Regions from separate parts of the Homo sapiens genome. Here regions 1 and 2 are each linked to region 3. The links come from fine-mapping of genetic effects on gene expression. A gene starts in region 3. Each other region holds a variant in brackets. All regions are shown on one strand. Distances are from middle to middle. Region 1 overlaps TRIM58 (tripartite motif containing 58). Region 2 holds the start of LOC102724446 (a long non-coding RNA gene). Region 3 holds the start of OR2W3 (olfactory receptor family 2 subfamily W member 3).

What was found.
Region 1: its variant is fine-mapped to the expression of OR2W3 in whole blood (TOPMed, PIP above 0.99).
Region 2: its variant is fine-mapped to the expression of OR2W3 in subcutaneous fat (GTEx, PIP 0.96).

What each region holds. Positions count from the first base shown.
Region 1 is chr1:247,870,305-247,877,636 of GRCh38, reverse strand. It overlaps TRIM58 (tripartite motif containing 58), which reads right to left. Exons shown (of 6, transcript NM_015431.4): 6 at 1-1,737. The coding sequence ends at 1,148. Among named protein-coding and RNA genes, the nearest start is that of TRIM58, 17 kb to the right of the region's middle. The variant G/A (reference allele first, on the strand shown) is at 2,159.
Region 2 is chr1:247,635,048-247,642,923 of GRCh38, reverse strand. It overlaps LOC102724446 (a long non-coding RNA gene), which reads left to right and starts at 2,070. Exons shown (of 3, transcript NR_188589.1): 1 at 2,070-2,213; 2 at 6,989-7,069. RefSeq lists a silencer at 3,061-3,259. The variant G/A (reference allele first, on the strand shown) is at 2,929.
Region 3 is chr1:247,892,556-247,900,431 of GRCh38, reverse strand. It overlaps OR2W3 (olfactory receptor family 2 subfamily W member 3), which reads right to left and starts at 4,845. Exons shown (of 1, transcript NM_001001957.2): 1 at 3,901-4,845. The coding sequence starts at 4,845. The coding sequence ends at 3,901.

The DNA.
Region 1 (7,332 bases), 23 kb after region 3:
GGAACCATAACAAGCAGCTAAAAGAGAGAGAGAAGTGTTGTTTGAGGTCTTTTTTCTTTTTTGAGATGGAGTCTCGCACTGGGCTGGAGTACAGTGGTGAGATATTGGCTCACTGCAACCTCCGCCTCCAGGGTTCAAGCAATTCTCCTGTCTCCACCTCCAGAATAGCTGGGATTACAGGCTCCTGCCACCATGCCCAGCTAATTTTTCTATTTTTTTTTTTTTTTTAGTAGAGACAGGGTTTCACCATGTTGGCCAGGCTGGTCTTGAACTCCTGAGCTTGTGATCCACCCGCCTCAGCCTCCCAAAGTGCTGGGATTACAGGCGTGAGCCACTGCACCCAGCCTTAAGGTCTTATAACTAGTAAATATCTGCATTAAAGAACGAGTTGAATGAAAATTCTGATAAATTCCTACTTAAAGTGTATCCAAAGAAAACGGAAAAAGTCTAGGAGTTAGTGATATTAGATTCAGAAGAATGAGCTTTGTAATTCTTAAAAATTAGTCTCAGAATAGAAAGGATTTTAAAAGTAATTGAGTAAAGTCATAGGAAATGTGACCATATAAAGGAATGGCTCTAAATGTATTAATCCAGAAGGAAGCAACAGGTTAAACAGTAAGAGGTAAGAAACAAAAAATAAGGAACAAGAGAGAGAGAGTGACAGGGAGAGAGAGACAGAGCGGGGAAGGAGAGAATGAGAAGGAAAATCAGGAAAACGAGGAGAAACAGAATTAAGGAGGTGATACTGGAATAGTATCAGACCATTCTGAATCAATTTAAGAATTGCCATGTCTAATTCTTATATGGAAGATTTGAAATACAAGGATATTGAAAGGAATAACAAATTATAATGAATGCATAGAAATCCTTATGTAATCCAAGGTCATTAATTTGAAGGAAGACATCAAGAAAATGTGATCTAGAAATAGAGGTTGAGATTGCTCCATTTACAAAATTATTATGCTCTATAATCTTCCCATATGCAAATATTTCATATTCCCTCTTTTGTCCCATGGACATATTTCACAGCAACAACGAATCAAGTGCTGACCTAAATGGGGTATCTGTTAAAACTTAGTATATTGATATCCTTCACCCCACTCCAGGAACGTTCGCTACGCTAGGACTGCATCTTGGGAACAGAATTTTAGAGATGATCATCTCTTACATCAGAAGCAGGATCTAAATGATCCCTGGATGCCCAATTTCCTGACCCTGCTATTGTTGTGGGTGGCAAGATAAGAGGAGTTGCATCACAGATGAAAAAGTAAGGCCGAAGAAGACCAGAGAAGAGTTGGTTGAATGTGTAGATATAAGATCCATCTGTGACATTGTAGAATGAAATTTCACCGGCTTCATAGTCCAAGAAAATCCCAATGCAGCGAGGACTTTCCAGTTGGAGAAGAGGCACTGATGGGGAGGCAAGGACCATGTACTCATTCCCTTTCAGCAGCCACAGGGCCCAGACCCCATTCTCAGGAGATGGCGTGGTTTCCCCCTTTCTTGGCAGTGTGTCTTGACAGACCCCTAAACCCCACTCTGCTCCTTCTCCCACCAGAACCTCCCAGTAATGCCTCCCTGATGAGAAGCTCTGCAAACCCAGGATGCAGGGCCATGTGTCAAATCGCTCAGGGTTGTTGGGGACATCCCTCCATGGTTCTCCATCCTGCACACTGCGCAGGTCGGCGGTCAAGAGCAGACTCGGGTGCGCCGTGGCGGGATCCAGCTTTACATCCACTGCGGAAAGAATGTGGTGGACCAGGTGAAAGGAAAGAAAGGACTGGTAGAAACTTAGGAAACCACTGAAAAGAATAGTCCCACAGTTCCTCACTTTTCTCTCTCTATTAACTCCTAGAGAAAACAAATCAGTATTTCACCTTACAGGTGAAATCTTCTTTATTACTTTATTATTCTTATTCTTTATAACTTTCTGGTATATTCCACTGTTACCTCTGCGTAACCCAGAACTCTTTAACTTTCCCAAAAAAAAACAACTATTGATGACGACAAACCAAGTGAATTATCATTTAGTTTCCTTTCATTTACATCTAAAGCATTTGTGTGTGTGTGTGTGCGTGAGAGAGAGAGAGAGAGACAGAGAGACGGGGTCTTGCTATGTTGCCCAGGCTGGAGTGCAGAGCTATTCATGGGCATAGCC[G/A]TGGTACACTACAGCCTCAAACTCCTGGACTCAAGCAATCCTCCCGTGTCTGCCTCCCCAGCAGCTGGGACTACAGGTGCACACCACCATGTCTGGCTTACATCCAAAGCATTTGAGTGCACTTAGGAGGATCTTCTGCATTTAACATAAAATTTATAAACCCCTTAGGAATTTTTTTCTTAAAAATCTATAGAATTTTATTAATATTAAATCCACTACTTCCAAAGTTATATTACTGTGGTAGGCGGAATTCTAAGATGGACCCCATGACCTTCACACCCTGGTGTTAGCCTCATGAGTATGTTACACTATATGACAAGAGAGAGATTATCAAGGTGCGTCTAATCAAATCCCACAAGTCCTGTAAAATCAGAAAGTTTTCTCTGGCTATTGGGTTGGTGGCAGCAGGAAAGGTCAATAAGATGTGGATTTGATATCTCTTTGCTGGCTTTGAAAATGGAAAGGTCACATGAAGAGACAAACGAGTGACCTCTAGAGCTGAGAGTGATCTCCAGAGCTGAGAATAGCCCCCAACCAACAGCCAGCAAGAAAACAGGAATCTCAGTACCGCATTTGCACAGAATTGTATTATGCCAACAACCTGAATAAGGTTGGAGGTAAGGTTCTTCCCCCGACCTACACAGAAGCCTGGCCTGGCCTGGCCAACACCCATATTTGGGCCTTGAGAAAACCTAAGCAGAGGAGCCAGCTGATCCCACTTGGATGTCTGGTCTTCAGAACCATGAGCTACTAAATGGTATGGCTTTAAGCACATAAGCTTGTAGTTATGCGTTATATAACAATAAAAAATACTGATACTCTGAAGTCCCAGTGAGATTGATGAGACATTTGACCCATATACATAATAAATAAATACATCTAGATATGAAACCTCAGTGAAGGGGGGATGTAAAATATTCAGTGCATTTCCTTATTAGCATTGCTTATAAGTAGTAAGTTAATAAATAATATGGTTTGGATGTGTATCGCCTCCCGGTCTCATGTTGAAATGTGATTCCCAATGTTGAAGGTGGGGCCTAGTGGGGGGTGCTGGATCATGGGTGCAGATCCCCCATGAATGACTTAGTGCCATCCCACTGGTGATAAGTGAGTTCTTTATCCGTTCATGCAAGAGCTGGTCGTTTAAGAGGAACCTGGGGCCTCCCCACTTCACTGCTTCCCTCTTGCCATGTGATACGCTGGCTCCTCCTTTGCTTTCCACCATGACTGTAGGTGTCCTGAGGCCTCACCAGAAACAGGTGCCAGCACCATGACTCCTGTACAGCCTACAGAACCATGAGCCAAAATAAAGCATATTTCCTTATATTAATAAATTACCCAGCCTCAGGTATTTCTTTATAGCAATGCAAAATCAGACTAACATGTTAATATAGTTTGATTTTTAATATCAGAACAAATACTGTTTCTACTGCTACTGCTACTGCTACTGCTACTACCACTACCACTATACTTATTTGCCTTTAAACACTTACAGTGAACTACTTTTTTTTTTGAAACGGAGTCTCGCTCTGTTGCCCAGTCTGGAGTGCAGTGGTGCAATCACAGCTCACTGCAGCCTCCACCTCTCAGACTCAAGCCATCCCCTGACCTCAGCCCTCTGAGTAGCTGGGAAGGCACACACCACCATGCCCAGCTAGTTTTCTGTATTTTTTTGTAGAGAAGGGGTTTTGCCATGTTGCCCAGGCTGGTCTCGAACTCCTGGGTTCAAGCAATCCATCCGCCTCAGCCTCCCAAAATGTTGGGATTACAGGCGTGAGCTGCCACGCCCGGTCTAGTGAATTTTTATTGATACCCAACCTGAGTGGTCACGTAACTGCGCATTGCATTATTTTTATTATGTAACCACCCTGAGGGTCACCATTGTCATCCCTACATTACACAAGAGTAGATTCAGAGTCAAAGAGTTTATGTGGTCTTCCCAAACTCTAGAGGTAAATAACAGAGATTGAAAGGTAGGTCTCCATGGATTGTGCATTTAACACAATCTAACAGGTCATGTATTCCCAAGCCATTCCTCTTCCGGCACAGTGGTCTGCTTCATTTCTAACAAAAGAGATCTGTGAAATGGCTTTTGATATGGTCTGTATCCCATTCCTCTCCCTACCCCTTCTCTCCTAAACTCAATTCTTCATCATGATGTGACCATACCCCAACCAAACTGCGCATGTCCATCTTCCCAGGGACCTCCGTGTTGATGAATGGTTACTTGTCAGTTTGTCTTTTTTTTAAGATGGAGTTTTGCTCTTGTTGCCCAGGCTGGAGTTCAATGGCATGATCTTGGCTTACTGCAACCCCCATCTCCCGGGTTCAAGTGATTCTCCTGCCTCAGCCTCCCGAGTAGCTGGGATTACAGGCATGCACCACCACGCCTGGCTAATTTTGTATTTTTAGTAGAGACAAGGTTTCCTCAGGTTGATCAGGCTGGTCTCGAACTCCTGACCTCAGGTGATCTGCCCGCCTCGGCCTCCCAAAGTGCAGGGATTTACAGGCGTGAGCCACCGCGCCCGGCCCAGAGTTCATCTTCAATGATTTTTCTGTATCTCTCAACACTGAGAATCTACTTGTGCTGGAAAATCTCCCTTTTCCAAAGGTAACACTCATCCATGTTTCCCTTCCCTCACTGCTCACTACTCCTTGATCCTCTTTGCTGTTCTCTTCTCCTCCACCACCACCACTGGAGAAACCTATAGTCCCAAGACTTGGACTTCTTCTCTCTCTCTCACCTCACTCCCTATCTACCCGGGTGCTGGCTGGTTCATTGCTTTGATAAAATTCCATTCATATGCTGACTGATTCCCAATGCATGTGCTTAGCTTTGAACTTTACCCTGAAACTCCCTATTGTACATTCATCTGCCCACTTGATAGCAACATTTGAATATTTAGCACTCATCGCAACATCCACATATCCAAAACCCTGTGCCCTTCTTCTGCTTCAACTGTCGCTTTCCTCATCAATATAAGTGGCAATCACATTTTGCCAGTTCGCAAGATCCAAAACCTTGGAATCATTCATGGCTCTTCCTGTTTATAGCACATCATATATAATCCAACAGCAAATCTTAACAGCTCTGCCTTCAGTATATAACAAAAATCTGTCCATCTTGCGGCACCTTCCGTAATAACATCTATTCCAACACATAATCATCTCTCATCAAATTACTGCAAAGACCCTTAACTGCTTTTCCCATGTCAATCTTCTCCTCTCTGTAATTTACTTACAAGAAAGCATATAGAGTGATCCTCATAAAACATTAGTCCAATCAAACTATTTTTCTAGGTACAACTTTCAACTATGTCCTATTTCGCTCAGGGATAAAGTATCATGCTCAGCATGGCCTGCCTATCTAGCCCTTTCTTGGTCTCTCCGACCCTCCTGTCATTTACTCTGCCACAGAGTCCTCACACTGACATCCTCACAGCTCCTGGAACACACCTGCCATCCTCCACGTCAGGCCTTGGCGCTCATTTCTGCTGCCTGAATGCTTTCTTCCAGATCATATATTTGCTGGGTTATCCCCTGCAGGGCGGGGTCTTTCCTGGTCACCTTATTCAAAACTAGAACTTCTCATTACCCTTTGCATACTCTTTTTGATTTTCTTCAATATTCTGTGTCAGCCACTTACAGCCTGTGTATTTTGGTGAAGTACATATCTGCAACACAAAGCTACGGATTGTAGAGTATTTTGTTGTTGTTGTTGAATGATATATTCCAATGTTTAAAAGAATGGGTGAGATAAAATTAATCACACATTTTGAATGATTTCATTCCATAAAAACAAATATGGATATGAGGTTGCTGAGTCTGAGGGTGCCATGACGATTTTAATCAAGTTGGGCATTTAGCATACATTCATCTACCCAGGAGAACGTGGGTACTATGCTGCAGAGATGGGTTTTCTCATTAAGGGACTTTACACTCTTTCCCTCTAAGTAGTGAAGTCACTATTTAGACATAGTTTTCATTACTTGGGATAAATTAGATTTTAAAATGAAATTGTAAACAATACTGAATCTATACTGTTTTAAAGAATAATACAATCAGACTAAACACACTAATTTTTTGTGACACTGCTTATTCCTACATGAAAATAACTGACAATATTTTTGGCTTTATTGACTCACTAATTCAAGCAACTCATCAAATTCTCAGCCAATAAATTAAACCAAACTTCTTGCTAATTGATAACTTTGCAGTGCTTTCATATTGATTACTTTTAGGAGGTGGGGTGCTTTCAAATGTTTCATTTTGTCCTCCAAGCAATTTATTTTTAGCATTTTATAAGCAAGGAAATGTAAATTTACTGGAAGTAACGTTACTCATATCAGCTAATAAGAGATGACCTACAGTTTTAAGCCCATAGTCTAACCAAATGTAGACTCTATGGGTGGCCGTGACTCTGATACTGCTCATGAATATACTAATCCTCGTTCTTCTGGGCGTGGTGGTGCAGGCTCTATGGGTGGCCGTGACTCTGATACGGCTCATGAATATACTAATCCTCGTTCTTCTGGGCGTGGTGGTGCAGGCTCTATGGGTGGCCGTGACTCTGATACGGCTCATGAATATACTAATCCTCGTTCTTCTGGGCGTGGTGGTGCAGGCTCTATGGGTGGCCATGACTCTGATACTGCTCATGAATATACTAATCCTCGTTCTTCTGGGCGTGGTGGTGCAGGCTCTACGGGTGGCCGTGACTCTGATACTGCTCATGAATATACTAATCCTCGTTCTTCTGGGCGTGGTGGTGCAGGCTCTACGGGTGGCCGTGACTCTGATACTGCTCATGAATATACTAATCCTCGTTCTTCTGGGCGTGGTGGTGCAGGCTCTATGGGTGGCCGTGACTCTGATACTGCTCATGAATATACTAATCCTCGTTCTTCTGGGCGTGGTGGTGCAGGCTCTATGGGTGGCCGTGACTCTGATACTGCTCATGAATATACTAATCCTCGTTCTTCTGGGTGTGGTGGTGCAGGCTCTATGGGTGGCCGTGACTCTGATACTGCTCATGAATATACTAATCCTCGTTCTTCTGGGCGTGGTGGTGCAGGCTCTATGGGTGGCCGTGACTCTGATACTGCTCATGAATATACTAATCCTCGTTCTTCTGGGCATGGTGGTGCAGGCTCTATGGGTGGCCGTGACTCTGA
Region 2 (7,876 bases), 260 kb after region 3:
AGCATTCAAGCAGCACAGATCACCCCAGCAGTGCTATCTGCTCCCTCCTCCTGAGCTTGCCAAGATTTGGGGGTTTTGCTTAGGCTTCCCCATTCCTCGATCCTAAAGCACTCCAAGCAAATAATGTTGGTACTGTTTATCCCTACATGCAATGTGCCATATGAAATCTTGAGAAAGTTGCCCATGTCAGTCTATTTTGTTTTTTAAAAAGGATGATTATAAAATAAAGTGAACATCTGAATCTCTGGCCAAGTGAACCTCAGCCTCCCTTATAAACCTCAATATGCTCATCTTCATTTACTACGAAGCAATAACTCTTCAAATTCTTAAGCAAATAATACAATATTCATTGCAATCTGGATCTCCCTACATGTCTTTCATTGATCAACTGTCAAGGACGTTAAGGAGATTCTCAAGACTCCTCAAAAGTTGGGGGCGTGTGTGTAAGGGGAGAGATTTGTGACCAATTAAAATGCAGGAAAGTTAAATAACATTTCCAACTTCCTGGTTTGAGGCACAAACACATTTGGTGTTGAAGGAAAAGGATCAGGAAGAAACAAAACTATAATTTATAGCTTAAGTATGGTCATGGGACAGGAAATAATGTGTGGCACTTACAAATTCCATGTCCAAGCCAGGAAAAGCAAAACAGAAACAAGGACCAAGAGGGTGGTAGTTAACCTAGAAAGACTGAGGACTAAGGAAGTCCCTACTGCTGACCGAGCCCATACCAAGCAAAACCAGCAAGTGACAAGCAGCTCTCAACCCCTTTGGCTTCCTGCCTACCCTGAGATATTCTTCCCAATAATTCAAATCTAAAAGGTTTTGAGCAGCATGGGAATTAAAAAAGAAAAGAAAAACCCACCTCTGTGAAAGAGTGGCTTATATACAGGTGATCGTTTTGGATGGCACACCTTAGCATTACTAAGTTAATGCATCAGAAAGGTCGCAAACCCATCCTCTGTAAATCGGGACAGAACTGTGCCCTCTACTTGTTTTCTGCCCGAGCTTCATTCTTGACTTCTGAAGTTAATTTTAATGGTTTAAGCCCTTCCTCTCTGTTTCCAAGAGTTTTGTTTAACTTTCTTTTATCCCCCACTCACACCCTGACAGATTATGGTATGAAATAACAAAAAGTCCATCGACTTTGAAATCAGATAGACCTGGGTTTAAATCAGATAGACCTGATGCTTCATCTCTGAATCTTATCTGTAAGCTTCTGCAAAATGGACTAGTAATAACTACTCCTGAAGTTCTTCTGAGTGTTAAATGAGATAATGTATGGAAACATATCATGTCTGTTGTAGTAGATATGCTACAGTGACACAGCACACCTACTCCAGGACAAATCATTCATGCCTCGGATAGTATCTGGAACAGTTAGCTACTTAACTGCAATCATCTTCTCAATACATTTACCAAAATACAGAAAAGTGCCATGCATCAGTTACTTGTGAAAATTCTATCTCCAGTCCCGATCTCTCTCCCTTGAGTTAGAGCCCTGGATTTGTGGCTACTTCGTGAATATTACTATCTACTAGTGACTTTAGAATTGGCTAGAATTCATTTTATGCCATTGCTATTAGAAATAGGAAAGCAGACCTCAACACATGAATTCATTTGGCCTTTGTTATATATACATAGACAGGATAGGAAGTAGGACTTAGGTCACCCACCTCTCTATTTCCTGTATTTCTCTAAGTGCTTCTTGATGTCTCTCCACCAGCTGGACCACATAGAAAAGCAAATTTATCACCACACTTCCTCCAAAATTAGCTCCCCCTCTGGACTTATTTCTGTTAATTGAACCTTAATTTTCCTGGTCTGATTCAGGACTTGCAATGTCCTTGGCAAGATTTTCTGCCTTCTTCTACACCCACCCACCAGTCCCTGCATCCATTTGTTACCAAACTACCATAATTTCGTCTTTCACAAAGTCTCCTGTCTATCCTTTCCTTTTAGTTTCACCTTGACAGCACACTCTAGAACCTCATTACCTCACACCAGGACAAAGGGGTCCTACCTAGACGCCCTTCCACCTGCCCATCTAATCCCAAACACTCTGTGCACACTGCCACTTTCACCATCCCATATCCACGCTTCGCAGAGACACCTGCAAAAACACTTGCAATGCAAGACTCAGCCACAACTGAGCCTCAGAGTGTGACATCTAGGGGACACCTTGACAAAGAACCACAGGAGAAACCAAAGAGGTGGGTAAAGAACCAGGAGAGAAGACTCCAGAGAAAGGTCAAGACCCGGGGGCAGGCACCAAAAAAAGAGATGAGAACGGCAAACTTTGCCCTTTCGCAGCCCAAAGTCCTCCAAGTAAATGTCAGAAGCCAGCAAATGCCTTGGGGAGCTGATACGGAGCCCTGACTCATCTCTGGAGGAGCAGAAGAGGTTAATCAGAAATCTGTGCAAGTAGAACAAGGGGTCGGAAGACTGATCTAGCTACACGGGAGGCCAAGGTGACGCGGAGGGACTCACTCACAGATGCTGAGGGCTCAGCAGGGTCCGCACGGGGTCTAAGGAACGCAGCACCGAAGCCATTCTGCGTTGCTCAAGCACTCCGCGGACACGCGCTCGGCTCTCACATCCTGGAGATGTTCGTTATCCCGGGAAGATGTTTATCAGAAGAGAATTTCAAACAGAATAAGTAACTTTTTAGTAAATGTCCTCAATTAAACTCCCGCCTTAAGGCAACTGTTGAATTTTCCCCAATGCTGGAGGATACATGTGATGACATGAAATGTTCCTATTTTCCAAAGTTTTCATCTACCAAGTCGTTCATGTACGGTTTAGCACCGTTAATATAAGTTCACTCCTCAAAGTAATAGGTTCTGTGACAGAAGATTCTTGGTCCTAAATTTCTGATTCAAAAATGGGAAAAAATTCCAAGATATAAAAGCTGTTCACCAGTATTCC[G/A]GTTAAATGTATAACATCATAGAACAATATGAGTGATCATTGAGTCACCTTTCCCAGATGTCTCACAGAAAACCTCCTCTGACTATAATGCCCATGGAAAATCATCTTAATTCCAGAAAGCGGGGGCTGACGGGACACTGTTGAGAGGGTGAGTCACGGAAAATCACGAATGGTGGCAGGCGCCCCGCCTCAGTTCCCCTCGGGAGAGGGCACCCGCCAGTGCGGACCGCCAAGGGGCGTCCAGGACAAGGGCGGTTGGGCTCCGCGGCCCCAGCGTCCGCCCAGCGCGCCCTCCCGCGCGGCCTCGTCCCAGCCTGGCCCAGGTTCCGAGTCCCCAGTCGCGGGCGTCGTGAGGCTCGAGCGAACCCCCAACAACCGCGCCTCGCCAGGGCCACCCCGCCGCTCTGCGAGGTTCCCGGCGGCCCAAGGGCGGGATCCTCAGGACGCAGGCGCGCGCCTCTGCCGCAGCCGGGGGAGGAGCGCGGCGGCAGCAGCGACCAGTAACCGTTAGTGGAGCAGCCCCGCCCCCACGGCCGCCAGGCCCGCTCCTCCCACTCCGCCTCCTGAGCTGGAAGCTGAGAGAACCCAGGGCCCGGGCTCCAACTTCCAAGCCTGTCGCAGAGCCTGGCAAGCTCCCTTCGGGGAAGACTAGACCGACGTGCCTTAACTATTAAGTTGAAAAAGCGAAGTAGTATAAAAAGGAGATAGAGTAATAAGTGCCAAAATACACTCTGATGCACTCGTCCCTTTTTCGTCTGTCTTCCAACTATTGTCATTTTTCCAGTCAGTTAATTTCTCCTCTGCTTTTCCTTCATTTTCCTGAGTTGTTCTTCGCTCTCTGCCTCTGCTTTTCCTTCATTTTCCTGAGTTGTTCTTCGCTCTCTGCCCCTCTCCCTCCTCCACTTTTCCCCTATGGCAGTGAATCAACTGTGTGACCCCAGCTGTCACAACTGCTGCTGAGAGGGTGTGGATAAGTCACAGCTCCCAGCTCACTTTCTCACCTGTACAGCTGGACTGACCACACCCTCCTCCCGGGGTTATTGTGGGGTGGAGCAAGTCACCGATCTGGGAGGTGCTCATTTATTCTTATCATAAAATGGGGATCCCCCGCTATGGGCTGGGCACTGGTATCAGGACCCAGGAGCACAGTTCCTGGGCTCAGGCATCGCATAACCTCATGGGAACAGCAACCAGAGAAGAATTTCATGAGGATGAGCTCCATGCACTATCCTCACTCCAGGCCTCTTCCTTTTCCTTCGCTTTTACTTTGCATCTTAATGCTCAAGGCTAATGCCAGAAAAAAAGGTGAAGTACGCAAAGGGTGTCTAGAGCATCTCAAACTTCTTTATCTCAACTTTACCTCCCTCTCGTGATGGGCTCTGCTCTTTTCTCCACCCCATCCCCAATTCTGTGAAGTTCAGCAAATGCTAACTGCACAGTCCTTGTGCAGGCACTCTACCAGGTGCTGAGAAATCAAATAGCATAATTTCAATATAAAAGTGAGAGTACTGAAATCAAGGGAACATATCTAAGTCATCTGTTGCTGCCAAATGCCCAGATACTGTTTTCCATCAACAGAACTTTCCTGGGCCTCCACCATGGCTTTATGCCCCAGCAGGACAGAGCTGCCCTCCTGGTTGATTTTACATTTCTAATGAAATCTTTTTTTTTTCTTTTCTGTCCCCATTGTTTATATTCCCAAGCACACTGCAGAGCTCAGTTCCCAGCCAGATCAAGCTGCCACGTGACCTTGTTGGTTCTTCTTCCCGCCTGGGCTCTGCTCCAGTTCCTCAACATCCTTCCTGCTCATGGGGAAGGTCTCACCCCAAAGTGGCCCTGGGATTCCGTCTTGCATATTTTCATATGTGTGTGTGTGTGTGTGTGTGTGTGTGTGTGTGTTTGCAAACTAAACTGATTCACTCCCACCTCTTTAGACCTCCTTTAGAAAGGAGAACGCAGACTGGGTGGCTGTGAGCAGCACTTACCATTCTCCATGGCCTTGGTAGGGCCCCTTGAGCCCTGCTTGCTTCTTCACACAGAAAGGAAACTAAAGAGCTTTCTTGGCAATCAGTAACTCTCCCAAGCATATTTGTGTTTTCACACAGGATTTTAATTTCTACCACTGTAGGAGGCACTAGGTTCATGTTCTGGAAAAGTTAGTCCCCATGCTGCCTCTGAAATTGTATCCACAAAGACAGTTGTTCATTTTAAGTGGCAATTAGGATGGTGAGGAATTCAAAACCATGCCTAACAATAAGAACAGTAATAATAATAACCCCAGCCATTAATTGAGCTTTTAGTAGGAATCAAACATTCTTATTTAATCTCAGTGCTTTATAAACACTATCTTATTGAATCTTCACTGACATCCTATGAGACATTTTTATTCCTGTTTCACAGGGGTCTGTTGGGTGCACAGGAATCATGTCTTTCAAAGAGCACCAAGTGCAGAGGCCATGGCAAGGCCCCTGGACTCAAGTGGAAAGAAGAGGAGCAAACGTGTTCCCAAGCCCATGTTGAGACATCACCATTCCAAGGACACCCAGAAATAGCTGAGGAGGAATTTAAGGAGACAAGAGAAACATGGGATTAAGATCTTGTCAAGCAAGTGAAGATTTGGAGACATGGAGCTATGCATGTGAATATGCCTGGACATTCATGAACTTATTTACACTCATGAACTCCTGAAACCTAGGAGAGGTTGAAAAATTGCAAATCTACTTGCTCCTTCTCCGCACCCAGGCTCTACTTCTAAGTTATTGCCAACTGCTCATGGCTGAAAGCCCACATCCACTTCCGTCCTTCATCAGCCACATCAGGCTGTTAGTTTTCTTGGCCCTCCAACTGCCCACCTACTCTTCCCTGCCTGGGTTGGTTTTCAGACACTTGGACTTCACTGATCTGCTGTTCTTCTGAACAATGGACTCTGCTCTCCCATCTGAATTTTTGATACTCCCATTGTGTTATCATCAAAAATATATATTTGGGCCAGATGCAGTGGCTCACACCTGTAATTGTAACAGTTTGGGAAGCTGATGCTGGAGGAACCCTTGATGCCAGGAATTTAAGACCAGGCTGGACAACAAAGGGAGACCCCATCTCTACAAAAAATGAAAAAAAAAATTACCCGGGTATGAGTGCATGCACCTTAGTCCCAGCTACTTGGGAGGCTGAAGCAGGAGGATCGCTTGAGCTCTGACATGACCCTGTCTCAAAAGTTAGGGTCAAAATGTTTATCTATTTGGTCTTTGCCCTTGATTCCTGGCAAAAAGGCACCTGAAATTCTTGGAATTTCCTGAGTGATAGGAGTTTCTTCCATTATTCATAAACAGCCCCTTTTGATCTTACCTGAGTTAATGCTAAGAGGTGACTCTAGATGGCCCTTACATAGCTTCTAGATGGGTGCTGGTGGCCAGGGCAACCGACCACATGAATAGAGGGCTGAACTCTCAGCCCTACCCCCTGATCTGCAGGGAGGGGACAAGGGCTGGAGATTGAGTCCAATCACCACCAATTGCCATCAATCATGCCTATGTAATGAAACTTCAGTAAAACTCCTGAAACAGCGAGGCTGAGCTTCCAGGATGGTGAATACATTGAGGTGCTAGTGCCCCCAGAGAAGACAGGGAACCTCCATCCCCACCCCACCCCTTACCCTGTACATCTCTTCCATTTGGCTGCTCTTAAACTGTATCCTTTAAGATAAACTGTGACTGTAAGTAAAGCGCTTTCCTGAGGAATGAGCCATTCTAGAAAATTCTCAAACCTGGGGACAGGAGTGATGGAGTCATAGTTTGAAACAAACTACCAACCCTCACATTTTTAGTGAGCTAGGCAGAAGTGTAAATAGCCTGAGGACCCCATTTCTGGCCTGCATATGAAGTGGAGGTGGTCTTGGGGAACTGAGCCCTTAACCCCTGGGGTCAGCGCTAACTCCGGCTAGTGTCAGAACTGGACAGAATTGTTGGACACTGAGCTGGAATAAGAGAATTAGGGTACTGGTTATTGTTGGAATAATAACACCTATAATAATCAGGCTGTTAATATTTATCTTAAATAGATCCAACATTCCGCTGCTGCCAGGTGTTGAGGAAATGCACACACCCTCATGAGAGAGACACAAACCATCACAGAGCATCAGGTAAGCCCCTCCCACACCCTCCCATGCCAGCCAGAGCCACCATTGTCTCTTGCCAGGATTGTTCCAACAGCCCACAATGGTCCTTCCCAGTTCTTCCTTCGACCTTCTACAGGGCAGCTAGAAGGGCACTGTAAAATAATCGGTCAGATCACATCACTCCTCACAGCCCTGCAGTGGGCCCCTCTTTCCTCCATGGTGATCTGCTACTCAGCTGCCTCTTCACCTGCGTGTTCCACTTCCCTGGCCCTCACTCACTCCCCTCCAGCTATGCCAATCTCTTCCTCGTTCTTGGAACATGCCAGGCGGCTTTTACCTAGGGACTTTGCACATGTTTCTCTGTCTGGAACATTCTTCCACTAAATAGCTTAGGACCAATTCCCTTACCTCCTTTAAGCTTTTGCCTAAATTTCAGCTACTGCACAATGTCAACCCTGAAAATGCTATTTAAGACAATGGCATTCTCTAGATTCCTCCTCTTTGGACATCTCTGAAAAAAAAGGCATCTATAAGTCCTTGGGACAGACACTTGGGTGAAGGGGTGGCTGTGGGAGCAGCTTCAGCAGACTTAAACGTCTCTGCCTGACAGCTCTGAAGAGAACAGCAGATCTCCCAGCACATCCTTCAAGCTATGATAAGGGACACACTGCCTCCTCAGGTGGGTCCCTGACCCCAGTGCATTCTGACTGGGAGACACCTCCCCGTAGGGGCTGACAGACACCTCATACAGGAGAGCTCCAGCTGCCATCTGGTGGGTGTCCCTCTGGGACAAAGTTTCCAGAGGAAGGAACAGGCAGCAGTCTTTGCTGT
Region 3 (7,876 bases):
GGTTCTCTTAATTAGAAAAGAGGCTATACGGCAGAAAATAAGTACATCTGTCATAAATTAGGGCTGTGTGGAAATAAATGTAAACACTGGTCTTGTGTCCTTTAGGCCACTTGGATAAAAAAAAAAAATGAGAAGGATCCAGTCCACCTTCAGAAAGGAAAAAATGGCCCTTCCTGTACTAAGGGACAATGTAACCCCTTAGAGCTAGTAATAACCAAGCCCCTTGAACCTCGCTGGGAAAAAGAGGAGCGTGTGACCTTAGGAATTGACGGGGCCGGACTGGATCCTTGAGTAAATATCTTGGTTCGAGGAGAAGTTTACAAACGCTCTCCTGAGCCAGCGTTTCAAACTTTCTATGATGAACTAAATGTGCCAGTACCAGAAATTCCAGGAAAAACATGAAATTTGTTTTTGCAATTAGCCAAGCATGTAGCCCAGTCTCTCAATGTCACTTCACATTATGTATGTGGAGGAACTGTAATGGGAGATCAATGGCCATGGGAAGCCCGAGAATTAGTACCTACAGACCCAGTTCCTGATGAATTCCCGGCTCAAAAGAATCACCCTGATAATTTCTAGGTCCTAAACGCCTCAATTATTGGACAATATTGCATAGCTAGGGAAGGAAAAGAATTTACTCACCCTGTAGGATGACTTAGTTGTCGGAGACAGAAACTGTATAATGGTACCACAAAAACAGTCACTTGGTGGAGTTCAAATCACACAGAGAGAAATCCATTTCATAAATTCCCAAAGTTGCAGATCGTGTGGACCCACCTGGAGTCCCACCAGGACTGGACGGCCCCCACTGGATTATACTGGATATGTAGGCATAGAGCTTATGCCAAATTACCTGACCAGTAGGCAGGTAGTTGTGTTATTGGCACTATTAAACCATCTTTCTTCCTACCGCCCATAAAAACAGGCAAACTCCTGGGCTTCCCTGTCTATGCTTCCCATGAAAAGAGAAGCATAGCTATAAGAAATTGAAAAAATGATAAATGGCCCCCTAAGAGAATCGTGCAATATTATGGGCCTGCTACTTAGGTACAAGACGGCTCATGAGGATACCGGACCCACATGTACATGATCAACCAAATCATATGGTTACAAGCTGTCTTAAAAATAATCACTAATAAAACCGGCAGAGCCTTGACCATTCTGACCCAGCAAGAAACTCAGATGAGAAATGCTATCTATCAAAACAGATTGGCTCTTGACTACTTGCTAGCAGCTGAAGGAGAAGTCTGTAGGAAATTTAACCTTATTAATTGCTGCCTACACATAGATAATCAAGGGCAAGTATTTGAAGACATAGTTAGAGATATGACAAAACTGGCACACGTGCCCATGCAAGTGTGACGGATTTGATCCTGGGGCCATGTTTAGAAAATGGTTCCCAGAGCTAGGAGGATTTAAAACTCTTATAATAAGAGTTATAATAGTAATAGGAACCTACTTACTGCTCCTTTGTTTGCTACCTGTACTTCTTCAAATGATAAAAAGCTTCATCACTACCTTAGTTCACCAAAAGCTTCAGCACAAGTGTACTATATGAATCACTATTGATCTGTCTTGCCAGAAGACATGGGTAGTAAAAATGAAAGTGAGAACTCCCACTATTGAGTGAGACTCTCAAAGGGGGGAATAAGGGAGTAGACCACCCCTCATATTGTCTTATGCCCAATTTCTGCCTCCAAAGAAAAAAAAAGTAAAAACTAAAAGGCAAATATCAAATCCACAAGCAGACAGCCCAGCACCACACCCTGGGCCTGGTAGTTAAAGATTGACCCCTGACATAATCGGTTATGTTATCTATAGATTACAGACATTGTATAGAAAAGCACTGTGAAAATCCCTGTCCTGTTTTGTTCCGATCTAATTACCAGCCCCCAGTCACGTACCCCCTACTTGCTCAATCGATCACGACCCTCTCACGCGCACCCCCTTAGAGTTGTGAGCCCTTAAAAGGGACGGGAATTGCTCACTTGGGGAGCTCGGCTCTTGAGACAGGAGTCTTGCCGATGCCCCTGGTCGAATAAACCCCTTCCTTCTCTAACTCGGTGTCTGAGGAGTTTTGTCTGCGGCTCTTCCTACTACACATCCACATCAGTACTTCTTACAAACAGCATCCTTGAATAGTCAGAGGGGGTGCTCTGGAAGCACAGGAATCCCCCTCTCTGGGGCTCTGGTTTGTTTACACTTACACAATGCCCTGGGGCTGGTGACTTTAGATGTGAGGTGTGGAGGTGAGGAGGATACAAAAGAGCGCAGAAATACACTTGTGGAGGAGGAGGGAGCCGAGCACAGGAGCAACGGCAGAGGAATGAGGACCACCCCTCAGCTGGCCTTTCACACCACTCCCTCTCACCTTGTGTTCGCCCTTGGTCTATGAACACTCTCCCAACTTTTTCCAGAATGTGTCCACCCTCCAAATGCCCGGAACAAGAGCAGGGGGTGATATACTTCCTGGGTTCTTAAAATGTAGTCCGAGTCCCCAAAGTAGGGACATCACCTGGGAGGTTTGCAGAGTCGCAGAAACTCAGACCCCTCTTATCACCAGCTGAATTGGAATTGCATTGGAACAAGACCTCAGATAACTGGAGGGCACGTTAGTGGGACACATTGAGGACTGCAATGTGTAAGGAACAGTAGCCAGTCATGCCCCTTAGCCCCAAAGGGTCTTTGACATTGTGTGCCAAATGCTTAAGGATTTTTGCTCTTTGAAATTTCATGATGCAATAGAAACCATATGAATCGGGAGTCTGACAGAACTTGGAAAAAACCCTGGTTCAGTTCCCCTCGAGCAAAAGATTTAACCTTCAGATCTCAAGGACCAGGGAGATAAAATGGGAATAATGATAATCATGCTGACCTCATACAAATACTGAGGTTGCATGACTTAGGAGCGTCTGGTACACAGAAGGGACTAAACCAATGTCAGGTTCTTCTTACTAATAATGAAAAAAACATGCCTGAGAAAGAATGATGCTTTAAGATTTAAACAACCCATGCATCATAACTTACAGGTTCACTTCTTGGTTTATGCAGAATCTTACACCAGATAAAGGGTAAAACAAACTCTACGATTTCATGAAAAGGTTTGGGTAGGAATTGGGAATATAGAAAATATAAAACTGTGCTGCATTCCATGATTTGATGGCCCTAAACAGAGAGGCACTTGGACCACGTGGAGAACAGTGATGCATTTGGGGTCATTCTGACTGAAACATGTCAGGTGTGTTAGACTTTAAAGCAAACAACAACAAACAAAGCAAAGCTCTGATTGAGAAGAGTTATTTCCTCTTAGCACTCTGGTATAAGTAGGTGGAAACTCATCTTTACAACTGTTTGTCTCACTTCATTCTTTGCAGCTGCTTTACAGATCATGATGGGTTTTGGGGATGATTTGTGTTATATAGTTCACACATAAATCACATAATGTTGGCCAGTCGCAGTGACTCACACTTGTAATCCCAGAACTTTTAGGAGGCCATGGCAGGGGGATCACATGAGGCCAGGAGTTTGGGACCAGCCTGGTCAACACAGCAAGACCCCGTCTCCATAGAAGACAGAAAAGCCACAAGCCACAATTCCCACTGCCAGTGATGCACACCTGTAGTCCCAGTTACTTGGAAGGCTGAGGTGGGGGAGGATCGCTTAAGCCCAATAGTCGAAGGAGCTATGGTGGCACCACTGCACTCTACCCTAGGTGACAGAGTGAGACCCCGTCTCAATTTTAAGAGCAACAACAAAAACACATAATGTCAGAACTGAAACAGCCTCACAAAAGTCCAGAAAAAGGCAAGTTGGGAGTCGTGGGCTAATATCAGCTGGAATTCAGCCGTTCCAGATGCTGCCAGTGGCCCTGGATGGAAGTGAAGTCAGGTGGAGATGCCTTTACTCCTTTCCTAGCTCTCTCTTCCCCAGAAGCAACCTTCCCAGTGCCCCCTTCACCTCTCTGTTTCTGAGGGTGTAGATGAGAGGATTGAGGAGGGGGGTGACAATGTTGTAGAAGAGCATGAGGAACATGCCCTGGTCCTGGGAAGAACTGGCTCCTGGCTGCATGTACATGTAGATGATGTTTCCATAGAAAAGGGAGACCACAGTGAGATGGGAGCCGCAGGTGCCGAAGGCCTTCTGCCTTCCTGATGCTGACCGAATTTGTAACACAGCCCTCACAATGTAGCTGTAAGAGAGCAGGATAAACACCAAGGGGGACAGCACAACACCCACCGCCAGGACAAAGACGGTGCCTTCGATGGCCACAGTGCTGACGCAGGCCATCCGGATCAGGGCGGGCATCTCACGCAGGAAGTGGTCCACCTCGTGGTGCCCACAGCGGGGTAAGCGCAGGGTCACAGGAGACATGGCCAAGGAGTTGGCCACCCCACAGCCCCAGGTCACTGACACCAAGCCCCGGCAGAGCCTGGGGTTCATGATCACCATGTAGTGCAGGGGCTTGCAGATAGCCACACACCGGTCATAGGCCATGACAGCCAGAAGCAGGCACTCCACACCACCCAGACCCAGGAACAGGAAGAGCTGGATGGCACAGCCCATGTAGCTGATGGTCTTGTCACATCCATTAAGGTTGTAGAGCAGCTGGGGGATGGAGCTGGTGGTGAAACTGAGGTCCAGGAAGGAAAGGTGGGCGAGGAAGAAGTACATGGGGGTGTGGAGGTGGGGGTCCAGCCGGGACACCAGGATGATGGTGGTGTTGCCTACGAGGGTCAGGAGGTACGCGATCAGGATGACCACAAAGAGGATCCTCTCCAGATGGGGTCGGTCAGAGAATCCCAGTAGGATGAAATGGGTTTGGGTGCTGCCATTGGTTCCATCCATCTCTACTGCTGCTGAACAGAAATATCAATCCTAATAATAATAATAACAGCTGATATTAAGGGAGAACTTACTAGAAGCTAAGCATTCTTCTATGCTTTTTATATTTATTTTATTCATTCAACCCCAACAGTTATATGGAGTTGCACTATTATTATTAGCTCCCAACTTATAGAAAAGGAAACTGAAACACATGTGTGTTGAGCAAACTGTGATATGTAGGAAGACACAGAGCTGATTCTGAACCCCGGCAATGTAGCTGAGAGTGTGCAATCTAAACCACCAGTAGCACTGCCTCCAAATCCAGTGAAGTGAAGGCAAATCCTGCTGTGGCCAAACCACGAATTTTTCTAGAGACTCCAGTCCCTAGGCTCCTGCCAAAAACCTCAAGGACTCAAAATGGAGCCTCAAAATAATCCATCAATAGTATTTAGGAAATACTCTTTACACACAGAGTACTTTATCTATTACTGGTCTCAAAGACACACCTCATTCATTGGGTTACCATTACTGAGGTAATTTTTAAATTACCTCAGAATTTAATTTAATTTAATTTTAAAATTACCTCAGTAGATAAATAATGTAAGAGACAGGCAAAATACACATAAAATCTCTTTTTTTCTCTCTGTCTTTTAAATGGGCCTGGTATTGAACAAATAGAGTGTATGGGTTTTTCTTCCAAAGTACTATATACTGCTTGAGAGGATAAAAGAGATTGAAAAAACTTTGTAACAGATATTACAACTGTAATGCAAAATTCACGCATATGTACAGAAACCTCTATCACGTTCCAACTCTAATACCACATCACATTCAAAGCAAAGCATATTTGATAAGACAAACCACAAGTCTTACAGATGGATATAGGGAGACTTGGTCCATCCTGGTGTTTGGGTGATGGATGCATTAAAAGCCAAGACTTCGCCACTGTGCAATACATGCAGCTAAAAAGCAGTACCCCCAAATTAATATAAATAGATATAAGCATGTATGTGCAGGTAAAAAGCAGTACTCCCAAATTAATATAAATAGATATAAGTATGTATGTGCAGGTAAAAAGCAGTACTCCCAAATTAATATAAATAGATATAAGTATGTATGTGCAGGTAAAAAGCAGTACTCCCAAATTAATATAAATAGATATAAGCATGTATGTGCAGGTAAAAAGCAGTACTCGCAAATTAATATAAATCCATACGTGGAGGTAACAAAACAGTACTCCCAAACTAAGACAAATAAAAATAAATACATGCGAAGATGGCCGAATAGGAACAGCTCCGGTCTACAGCTCCCAGCGTGAGCGACGCAGAAGACAGGTGATTTCTGCATTTCCATCTGAGGTACCGGGTTCATCTCACTAGGGAGTGCCAGACAGTGGGCGCAGGCCAGTGGGTGCGCGCACCGTGCACAAGCCGAAGCAGGGCGAGGCATTGCCTCACCTGGGAAGCGCAAGGGGTCAGGGAGTTCCCTTTCCCAGTCAAAGAAAGGGGTGACGGACGCACCTGGAAAATCAGGTCACTCCCACCCGAATATTGCGCTTTTCAGACCGGCTTAAAAAACGGCGCACCACGAGACTATATCCCACACCTGGCTCGGAGGGTCCTACGCCCATGCAATCTCGCTGATTGCTAGCACAGCAGTCTGAGATCAAACTGCAAGGCAGCAGCGAGGCTGGGGGAGGGGCGCCCGCCATTGCCCAGGCTTGCTTAGGTAAACAAAGCAGCCTGGAAGCTCGAACTGGGTGGAGCCCACCACAGCTCAAGGAGGCCTGCCTGCCTCTGTAGGCTCCACCTCTGGGGGCAGGGCACAGACAAACAAAAAGACAGCAGTAACCTCTGCAGACTTAAATGTCCCTGTCTGACAGCTTTGAAGAGAGCAGTGGTTCTCCCAGCATGCAGCTGGAGATCTGAGAACGGGCAGACTGCCTCCTCAAGTGGGTCCCTGACCCCTGACCCCCGAGCAGCCTAACTGGGAGGCACCCCCCAGCAGGGGCACACTGACACCTCACACGGCAGGGTATTCCAACAGACCTGCAGCTGAGGGTCCTGTCTGTTAGAAGGAAAACTAACAAACAGAAAGGACATCCACACCAAAAACCCATCTGTACATCACCATCATCAAAGACCAAAAGTAGATAAAACCACAAAGATGGGGAAAAAACAGAACAGAAAAACTGGAAACTCTAAAACGCAGAGCGCCTCTCCTCCTCCAAAGGAACGCAGTTCCTCACCAGCAACAGAACAAAGCTGGATGGAGATTGATTTTGACGAGCTGAGAGAAGAAGGCTTCAGACGATCAAATTACTCTGAGCTACGGGAGGACATTCAAACCAAAGGCAAAGAAGTTGAAAACTTTGAAAAAAATTTAGAAGAATGTATAACTAGAATAACCAATACAGAGAAGTGCTTAAAGGAGCTGAAGGAGCTGAAAACCAAGGCTCGAGAACTACATGAAGAATGCAGAAGCCTCAGGTGCCGATGCGATCAACTGGAAGAAAGGGTATCAGCAATGGAAGATGAAATAAATGAAATGAAGCGAGAAGGGAAGTTTAGAGAAAAAAGAATAAAAAGAAATGAGCAAAGCCTCCAAGAAATATGGGACTATGTGAAAAGACCAAATCTACGTCTGATTGGTGTACCTGAAAGTGATGCGGAGAATGGAATCAAGTTGGAAAACAGTCTGCAGGATATTATCCAGGAGAACTTCCCCAATATAGCAAGGCAGGCCAACGTTCAGATTCAGGAAATACAGAGAACGCCACAAAGATACTCCTTGAGAAGAGCAACTCCAAGACACATAATTGTCAGATTCACCAAAGTTGAAATGAAGGAAAAAATGTTAAGGGCAGCCAGAGAGAAAGGTCGGGTTACCCTCAAAGGGAAGCCCATCAGACTAACAGCGGATCTCTTGGCAGAAACCCTACAAGCCAGAAGAGAGTGGGGGCCAATATTCAACATTCTTAAAGAAAAGAATTTTCAACCCAGAATTTCATATCCAGCCAAACTAAGCTTCATAAGTGAAGGAGAAATAAAAT